Homo sapiens: one gene and its partner. The protein of the gene in region 2 purifies or fractionates together with the protein of the main gene of each other region. This does not show direct contact. Each region holds a gene or a part of one and is shown on either strand. Other genes may lie near its edges.

Region 1 (3,519 bases), on a different chromosome or scaffold from region 2:
AGATTTAGTAAGTGTTTGTTTGACTAACTATCTGGGTCTCAAAGTTTCTCTTGGAGTATAATTCAAATTCCTGAAGTGTCCACTACATGATATAAAATGCTATTAACTATCAAGGAATTCTATCCAACTAGTATTAATATACTGTCACACTAACAAGAGCTGGATTTTTTTTTTGGCAGAGGTTCCAGAAACGCCAGATTAGGAGATATCTTCTTGCAGCATGCAGCATAGCAGCCCCTGCCCCCTCTCACCCAGTCCCCCCACCACTTACCGCTGCTCTAGTGTAGTCCCCAGTGGCCAGGGAGCCGGTGGAGCTCATTTCCGCAATAAGGAGGCACCCCCGATGCAAAGGCAGGCCCACTTCTTGCAGGCCTTTCACAACTCCTGAGCCTGGCACCACGTGAGCATTTACTAGATCTGCCCAGGAAGCTATTTTAAAGATACCTCCTAAGAAGAAGGGGGAAAAAAGATATTTGCTGATTTTCAAACAAAACCTCTAACGTCTTGTCCAACCAACCAACTACAATATGAAATAATCTCCCAGTAACATGTTAATGAGAGAATCAAAACTCTTCAGGAACTTTAGTGATTATCAGCAGACCCATGGTTCCATCTGTGAAAACTGTATCTGTTATTCAGGTAAGTAGCTGGGTGAGAGATCACAATGAGAAAAAACTTTCAAGGTCTGCACTTGGCTTATCTGGAACACTAACAGGACTCTTTTTCCTTGAAGGCTGAAGCTCATGACCACAAATAAAGCTCATGCTATTAGAAAGGGACTCCAGTGAAGATAAACATTTATTGATGTCAAGGATAACATTTAAAAATTCCTCTTGAAGCTGGGCATGGTGGCTCATGCTTGTAATCCCAGTACTTTGGGAGGCTGAGGTGGGCAGATTGCTTGAGTTTAGGAGTTCGAGACCAGCCTGGGCAACATGGCAAAACTCCATCTCTACCAAAAATACAAAAAAATTAGCTAGGTGTGGTGGCGCATGCCTGTGGTCCCAGCTACTTGGGAGGCTGAGGTGGGAGGATCACTTGAGCCCAGGAGGTGGAGGTTGCAGTGAGTCAAGATTGCACCACTGCACTCCAGCCTGGGCGACAGAGCAAGACCCCATCTCAAAAAAAATAATAATAAAAATAAAATTCTTCTTGAAGATGACAAGTTTTCACTCTGCAGGGGTCTCTCAGCAGCTTTACTATCGCTCAATATTTCTACGTGTTCCTTAGATCTCCTTAGCTATCTAATTTCAATAGGCAACTATATTCCTTTTAAAAGCGGACAGTAACAAGCCTGATTTTCGAAAAAACTCTATGCAGAGCTGAAGAAAGTTTGTATAAAACTCTTATGTCAGTCAATCAGCTAAAGTAAGCTAGGCAATGTGATGAGGGCAGGACATCTTAAGCACATGAAGAAGTCACTTAAAGACAAATCTATTTTAAAGAAATAGCTTATGAACATGCATACATTAAAGAAAAGTTACCTCAAAGATGCCTACAAAAAATGTTATATGACACAACCAAATATCTGTTACCAGGTTAAGTGAAAAATGCATTAAATATAGTCTGATCACACAGTTGTAAAAACATAGACAGAAATTTGCATAGAATAGGCAGTAGAACTAAGCATTTTTCTCAACCAACACATGCACTACTTTGAGTCCCTATTTGATAAAAGAAAAATCTTTAAATAATGTTTATCAATAGAACTTTTTCTGCTACAAATAAATCTTACCATTTTATATTTCTTTTTCATTGTTTCCTTTATGTGGAATTTTCATTCAAAACATCATATTCTGCCAAGGACATCTGTCAAATTTGCTTGCCCAGGCACATACCCTTCTTCTGGTACTAGCACATCCATTTTCTTTAAGGAAATTATCCCTGACTGGTTCTTATTTCAAGAAGGTCATACAGAGTTAACAACCTCACAGTTGCAGAGCAAATTGCCCAGGCTAGTTAATGAAGGTATTCTACATCCCAAGCTAGAGTGATTGGTTTGGGGTGAGCATGCAGAGTATGCCTACCTGAGAAAGAAGTCAACAGAGAAGAAAGCAGAGCTGAGAGATGGAGAGAAAGCAAGTCATGAAGATATCACTTGAGCTCCTGGATCCAACCACGCTTGACAGCCTGCTCTATGAATGGACTTTCAATGACATGAGCATTTCCTTTTTCTTCTTCAGTTTAAGCTGGATTTCTGATTCTTGCAGATTCCTGAATAATACACTTACCTTCATACTGCTTTTTCACTGTGTTTCCTATATCTGCAAACTTCCGGTCTTCAAATATCAAGAACTCATGGCATTTTGCCAGAGTTATCAACTCCTTCATCACATCCAGAGTAAAATCATTCAAAATATCTACATGAGTCTTCAGCATGCAGATACTAGGTCCTAAAGCATCTGCTAGCTGCAACAGCTCTCTGGCCAGTGAAACATCAGCAGATAGACACAGATTGGTCTCCTTCTTTTGCATAAGCCTGAGAAGCTTCGATGCAACTGGGTGGATCCTGGGCAGCTCTGCACGTGCACCGAAGCTGAGTTCTTTGGGTGCTTCCTTTATAGAAAGGGGAGAACCATTATGATTCGCTGCCACAAAGACATTCTCCTGAATAAACCTCTTCACTCTCCCAACTGTCTCAGCATCAACTTTTTTCTGCTGCTCGAGAATCTCCAGCATTTTGGACAATGTACACACTGAGTGGAGGCGGATCCCGTGCGCCTGCAACTTGTCCTTGCCTCCCTGCTCTCTGTCCAACAGCACTATGGCATCAGTGACCTTCAAGCCCTCCTTCTGAAGAACCTCAACAGTTTCCAAAACACTAGATCCACTGGTGACAACATCTTCAATGATTAAACAGGTTTCTCCTGGATTAATAGTTCCTTCTACAAGACGCTTAGTTCCTAGAAAAGAAAAAATTTTGCTGATTCCAAATTTAAATATGTATGTATATGTGCGTATATACGTACACACACTCTGTATACAAAACTTGCCAGTTACACATACAGTATATGTGTATACCAATTCTGTATACCAAACTTGCTAGTTGCACATACAGTATATTTATGTATAAAGCCAACTCTGTATACCAAACTTGCCAGTTACACATACAGTATATTTATAGTAAATCAAGTAAATTATTTCACATTATAAACACTGCTTAATGTGTTTTATGATCAAATTTTCAAATAGAGAGGTTTTTTTTTTACTTTAAAAAAATCTGTTTTATCATAGAGATGAGGTCTCACTATGTTGTCTAGGCTGGTCTTGAACTCCTGAGCTCAAGTGATCCTCCCGCCTCAGCCTCCCAAAATGCTAGGATTATAGGTGTGAGCCACCACGTCCAGCCTAAATACAGAGTTTCTTACAGCAAGATCACCTAGATCAAGGAAAGTTATGAAACAGAATAATCCAGTATCATGAATGAAATAATTCCTTTTTCCATCAAAGTATTTTAAGTTCACTATTCAAGATCAGCCAAATAATTGACTTTTTGAAGACACAAATTCAGAAGGAAAA
Region 2 (5,426 bases):
TCAATTCTTGAGGTTTCAGTGCTTCCCCTGTGCAGTTATTCTTGAGCATCCCTGGTGATAGGGAGCTTACTGCCTCCTGAGACAGACTCTGACTTTTATATAGCACTGATTTGTTTGCAAGTTTCTTTTTGTGTTCTGTCACTCTGTATTTCTCTGACCTTTAAACCAATGATACTGGTTCTGCCTCTGAGAGGATGAGTGTACAAATCGAATCTGCTTCCACCTGACGGCCTTTTCATTTGAAGACAGCTGCTTTTTTTTTTTTTTGAGACGGAGGAGTCTCACTCTGTCGCCCAGGCTGGAGTGCAGTGGCACCATCTCGGCTCACTGCAAGCTCCACCTCCCGGGTTCATGCCATTCTCCTGCTTCAGCCTCCTGAGTAGCTGGGACTACAGGTGCCCGCCACCACACCCGGCTAATTTTTTGTATTTTTAGTAGAGACGGGGTTTCACCGTGTTAGCCAGGATGGTCTTGATCTCCTGACTTTGTGATCTATCTGCCTCGGCCTCCCAAAGTGCTGGGATTACAGGCGTGAGCCACCGCACCCGGCCAGACAGCTGCTTTTAAACTGCCTGCTTTTTCTCAGAGAAGGCCGTAAACTTTCCTAAGTGAGCAGCATGGAATAGTAGAAAAACAGGACTTAAAGTCAGACTGTCTGGTTTGAAACGTGGATTTCTATTTATTAACAGTGTAGGCTGGGAAAGTTAATCTCTCCATACCTCAAATCTCCTCAGTTCTGAAATGGGGATGATGATATGTAAAGATTAAGTGAATAGTATATATAAGTACCTAATACAGTCTGCCATGTAGATGTTTAACAAATACTAGTTTTCCCCTGGCTACCAATTCCTTAATTCTTCTTTTGATGAGTCTGTCTTCCATTCTTATGTTTCTGTTTGAGATACCATTATAATATGTCCCAAAATGTGATACATAGAAATAAGCCAAATGTTGCAAATCAAAGTTGGACCAGAGTGGAAGAAATTAGAAATGTTCATGTTAGAATAACATCTCTATTAATGTAATTAATGTAGTCCGGTATTGCATGAACCTTTTGGACAATCACGTCTTTCCAGCTACATCTTCCTTGTGCGTTACATATTTATTCTCTAGTACAGGTTGAACATCCTTAATTCAAAATGCTATAAAATTCAAAAACTCTTTAAGCATCAACATGATGCCACAAGTGGAAAATTCCACACCTGGCCTCATGATTGCTCGCAGTCAAAATACAAGTGCACAACACACTGTTTATTCAGGGTCCCTATGGGAAAAATTAATTACTTTCAGGCTATGTGTATAAGGTGGATATGAAACATAAAGGAATTCCCAATCCCCAGGATATCTCATATTGTATATGCAAATATTCTAAAATCTAAAAAAGTCTGAAACACTTTTGGTCCCAAGCATTTCAGATAAGGGATACTCAACCTGTATAGATTGATAGAACCCCTGTTAAGTTTTCTGTCTGTGGGTAACTAATTTTTCATTTCGTCCATTGTTCTGGACTTTCACATTTTCATCGGCTCTTGATTCTTTCATCCTACTTATTTATTAGCTGTCTTTACCAATCCCAAAGGACTTGGATTTTTTATATTATAAGTGGTTTCACTATGTTACTTACGTATTAAGAGTAAGAGAGCCCTGTATCAGCACAGTAGAAAGGTTATTGCTATATTTATCAGCAGTCTTTGGGTTGATTTGTTCTCCAAATTTATACGTTTATGTAACATATTATTATTATGCCCTTATTTGTTCATCTTGGTATCAAAGTTATGGCAAAGATTTCAGGTGCCATCTTGAAATTTGGATCACACAGTGTACTCATCTAGCAACATTTTTGAAATAGCCTCTACTTTATCTGGGAAAAGCATATGAAGTTCATTTGATAAGGAATGGGATGAGATTCGTTCTTCTGGATATCCCTTACAGAAGAATATGTACTGTCACAAACACATATGTATATGAATATATGATTGAATATATGTGCATATGCATATAACTTTAATGAGTTTGTGTTTATAATATGCTTATACCATCTTCTGTTACATTTGAATAGAAGTGGGAACAAGATCCTGAAACTTTCCTGATCATTATAAAGGGAGCAGGAGGAAAGGCTTTCTGTGCCGGGGGTGATATCAGAGGTAAAGACTTTTCCCTTTCACCTGAGTGCTCTTTCCCCCTACTAGAACTGATCAAGTATTGTCAAATTTTTGTAATAATTTATAATTTGCTTTACTTTTTAGAACTTTTTATTATAAAGTTAATACATTCTTAGGAAAAAGAAAAATTTAAAGACTTACTTTCTGCAGTTAGTATTAGCAAATGAGAATAGCAGATTTTTTTTTCTCACTACACAAATACCCATTTGAAATTTAAATATGTTGTCTCTCTCCCTGAATCATCACAAACAAAATGTCCAGTTAGGGTATATGGGTCCACTTTATATTTTAGAAGAGCTGATATTAAGCAGTTCTGTTGGTCTTATAACCTGACTATCTGGCCATGTTGACTTGCCATTCTTCAAATATGACATGCTCTCACATATTTCCATAACTTTTCCTATGCTTCCCACTATTCAAGATCCCAAAGCAACCATCTTCTATGTACTTATTTATAGCATTTATCCTGTTGCTATATATATATATATATATATATATATATATACACACAAAATATATATTACAAAATATATATTGTAAGTATATTTTACGTGTTTAAACATGCTGAGATAAAAAGAGAAACTCTCTTTATTTTTCATAATTGTTCAGGTCAGTCTGTCTATACACATTTAAATGTTAAAGACAAAAGAGAAGAAATGTCTGTTCTCAGCATCAGTGTCATGTATTTATTATAATCACTATAATTGTCCATATTATATGTACAGTATATTGAAAACTTTTTACATTTTGTATCTTGTTTCTTGTGGATTTGGTAGGGTTCAGGGATGGTTTTTTTCTTTGTGTTTTAATTTTATATGTTTGTTTGTTTGTTGTATTAAGACAACAGTCTTTGGGCTTGTTCACCAAACTTACGTAAACCATTACCTTAGGAACAGGAAAAAAGCTGGATTCAGGACATAATTTCAAATACTTATTAATGAATTTTAAAATTGCAGTTTAATGAAAACTTTGATTACTTAAACTGATCTGTTAACTGAATTGTTTTTGAATCTGTTGTTTTGCCTACAACATGCGTTTTTTTATTATTTTATTTATTTATTTATTTTTTTTTTTGAGACGGAGTTTCGCTCTTGTTGCGCAGGCTGGAGTGCAGTCACGTGATCTCTGCTCGCTGCAACCTCCACCTCCCAGGTTCAAACAATTCTCCTGCCTCAGCTTCCCGAGTAGCTGAGATTACAGGTGCCTGCCAACATGCCCTGCTAATTTTTTGTATTTTTAGTAGAGACAGGGTTTCACCATGTTGGCCAGGCTGGTCTTGAACTCCTGATCTCAGGCGATCCGCCTGCCTCGGCCTCCCAACAACATGCATATTTTTAAAATACTGTTTTTCAGCCTTGAATTAGCCTTTCGTCTGGCCTGTGATCGTCAGTTTACAGGTGGGCAGAGCTTTATGTATTGAGTTTATTAGCTTTTTCTGACTGAGCTATTTCTGCATATAGGCCTAATTTTATATTGATGTTTGGAAATAACAGCTACAAGTTGTAGAATTATTGTAGTTTACACATATAAAGCAGTGGATTCAAGTCCAGGAAATGTAATTTCTTGAAAGATTATAGTCCAAGACAATAAGTGGACACTCAGAAAATTTTCAAAAAATGATTGTGAAGGACATTTAATTTTAATTTAGATGGAACTAATTGATTAGAATAAAAATTAGATCAGAAAAAGATTTGAAGGAAATTTGAGAAGGTTTTTGAGGTAAAAGAGCTTCATTCCAAAGGCGATAAAACTTACATTCCTTTCCTTTTAGAATTGGTAAGCAGTGATAAGAGCTGAATAAAAGATGATAAACAAAGATAGTCATTTTTTGTTTGTTTGTTTGTTTGTTTAGGTATAAGTGAAACCTCAGAATGATAAAAGTAGGTGTCAGATCTTTCTTTTAAAAACCAGTAAAAGGACTGGGTGCAGAGGCTAACGCCTGTAATCTCAGCACTTTGGGAGGCCGAGGTGGGAGGATTGCCTGAGCTCAAGAGTTCGAGACCAGCCTGGGCAATGTGGTGAAACCCCGTCTCTACTAAAATACAAAAAAGAAAAATTAGCTGGGCATGGCGGCATGCGCCTATAGTCCCAGCTACTTGGGAGGCTGAGGCAGGAGAATTGCTTGAACCTGGGAGGTGGAGGTTGCAGTGAGCTGAGATCATGCCACCGCACTCCAGCCTGGTGACAAGGCAAGACTCCGTTTCAAAAACAAACACCCCAAAAAACCAGGAAAAGAAGTCGACATATGGAACATTTTGAAGGAAGAGATATCAGAATTCTAGAGTTAGGAGGCCCGAGCCGGCAGATCACCTGAGGTTGGGAGTTCGAGACCGGCCTGGCCAATATAGTGAAACCCCTCTCTACTAAAAATACAAAAATTAGCCAGGCATGGTGGCACATGCCTGTAATCCCAACTACTTGGGAGGCTGAGGCAGGAGAATCACTTCAACCTGGGAGGTGGAGGTTGCAGTGAGCCAAGATTGTGCCACTGTACTCCAGCCTGGGCAACAAAGCGAGATTCTGTCTCAAAACAAACAAAAAACAAACAAGAGAATTCTAGAGTTAGTGTAAGAATTGGTAGACAACATTTTGTATGTAATACTTTCCCATAAAAGAGGAAACATATCTATGAAATGTTTAGTTTGTGTTTTAATAGATAAATCTCATAGGACTTAAAGACAAGAAAGGCATATGAGTTGCAGTATATAGAAGAGGAAACTTTGATAGCAGTCTTGAGATTGACTGGAGGAGGAATATGGTAGGAGATGTGAACTCTGGGTAATAGAAGATTGCAACAGAAGTGAAACCATTTGATAGTGTTCACTATTCAGTAGATATTTACTGAGCATTTGTTTTTTAAGCCAGGCAGTGGTATGCTGTAGCAATGTCTTTGAGAATTTACATTTCTATCGATGTTAATAAATAAGAATGTCAGTATATTATTTACCTGTCTAGCCTCACCTTTTCCCTTTGCCCTTTAGTCTTTTAAAGCTGTTTGATTCTTGATTTTACTCTTCTTTCTTGACTTTGAGGCTTTGTAGGGTACTGCTTCCCCTAGTCAGAATTTTTCTTTCTGTCATTTTCTAGGAAATTCCTATTTACCTTTTCCAACTTGGCTTAGGGTTACCTCTTCTAGGAAGCCTTCTTTTAATTAATTACACATCTCCTGCTCCCATTCTGACAGCACCCCAATCCTTACAGGACAAAGAATATGTTTTAGTATCAGTCTAAACTCCAGGACAGCCATCTTGTGTTGCTGTCTTT

Evidence for each region. Proteins that work in one complex are often made in the same cells at the same time.
Region 1: the proteins of HIBCH (region 2) and UMPS fractionate together in Homo sapiens (co-fractionation; one large-scale study listed by BioGRID). This does not show direct contact.

The regions. Positions count from the first base shown.
Region 1 is NC_000003.12:124,736,952-124,740,470, reverse strand, and holds part of UMPS (uridine 5'-monophosphate synthase), read right to left. Parts: intron 2,904-3,519; coding exon 2,232-2,903; exon of another isoform or gene 2,028-2,231; intron 448-2,027; coding exon 272-447; intron 1-271. UniProt on the Homo sapiens protein: Bifunctional enzyme catalyzing the last two steps of de novo pyrimidine biosynthesis, orotate phosphoribosyltransferase (OPRT), which converts orotate to orotidine-5'-monophosphate (OMP), and orotidine-5'-monophosphate decarboxylase (ODC), the terminal enzymatic reaction that decarboxylates OMP to uridine monophosphate (UMP).
Region 2 is NC_000002.12:190,291,264-190,296,689, reverse strand, and holds part of HIBCH (3-hydroxyisobutyryl-CoA hydrolase, mitochondrial isoform 1 precursor), read left to right. Parts: intron 1-2,059; coding exon 2,060-2,144; intron 2,145-5,426. UniProt on the Homo sapiens protein: Hydrolyzes 3-hydroxyisobutyryl-CoA (HIBYL-CoA), a saline catabolite. Has high activity toward isobutyryl-CoA. Could be an isobutyryl-CoA dehydrogenase that functions in valine catabolism. Also hydrolyzes 3-hydroxypropanoyl-CoA.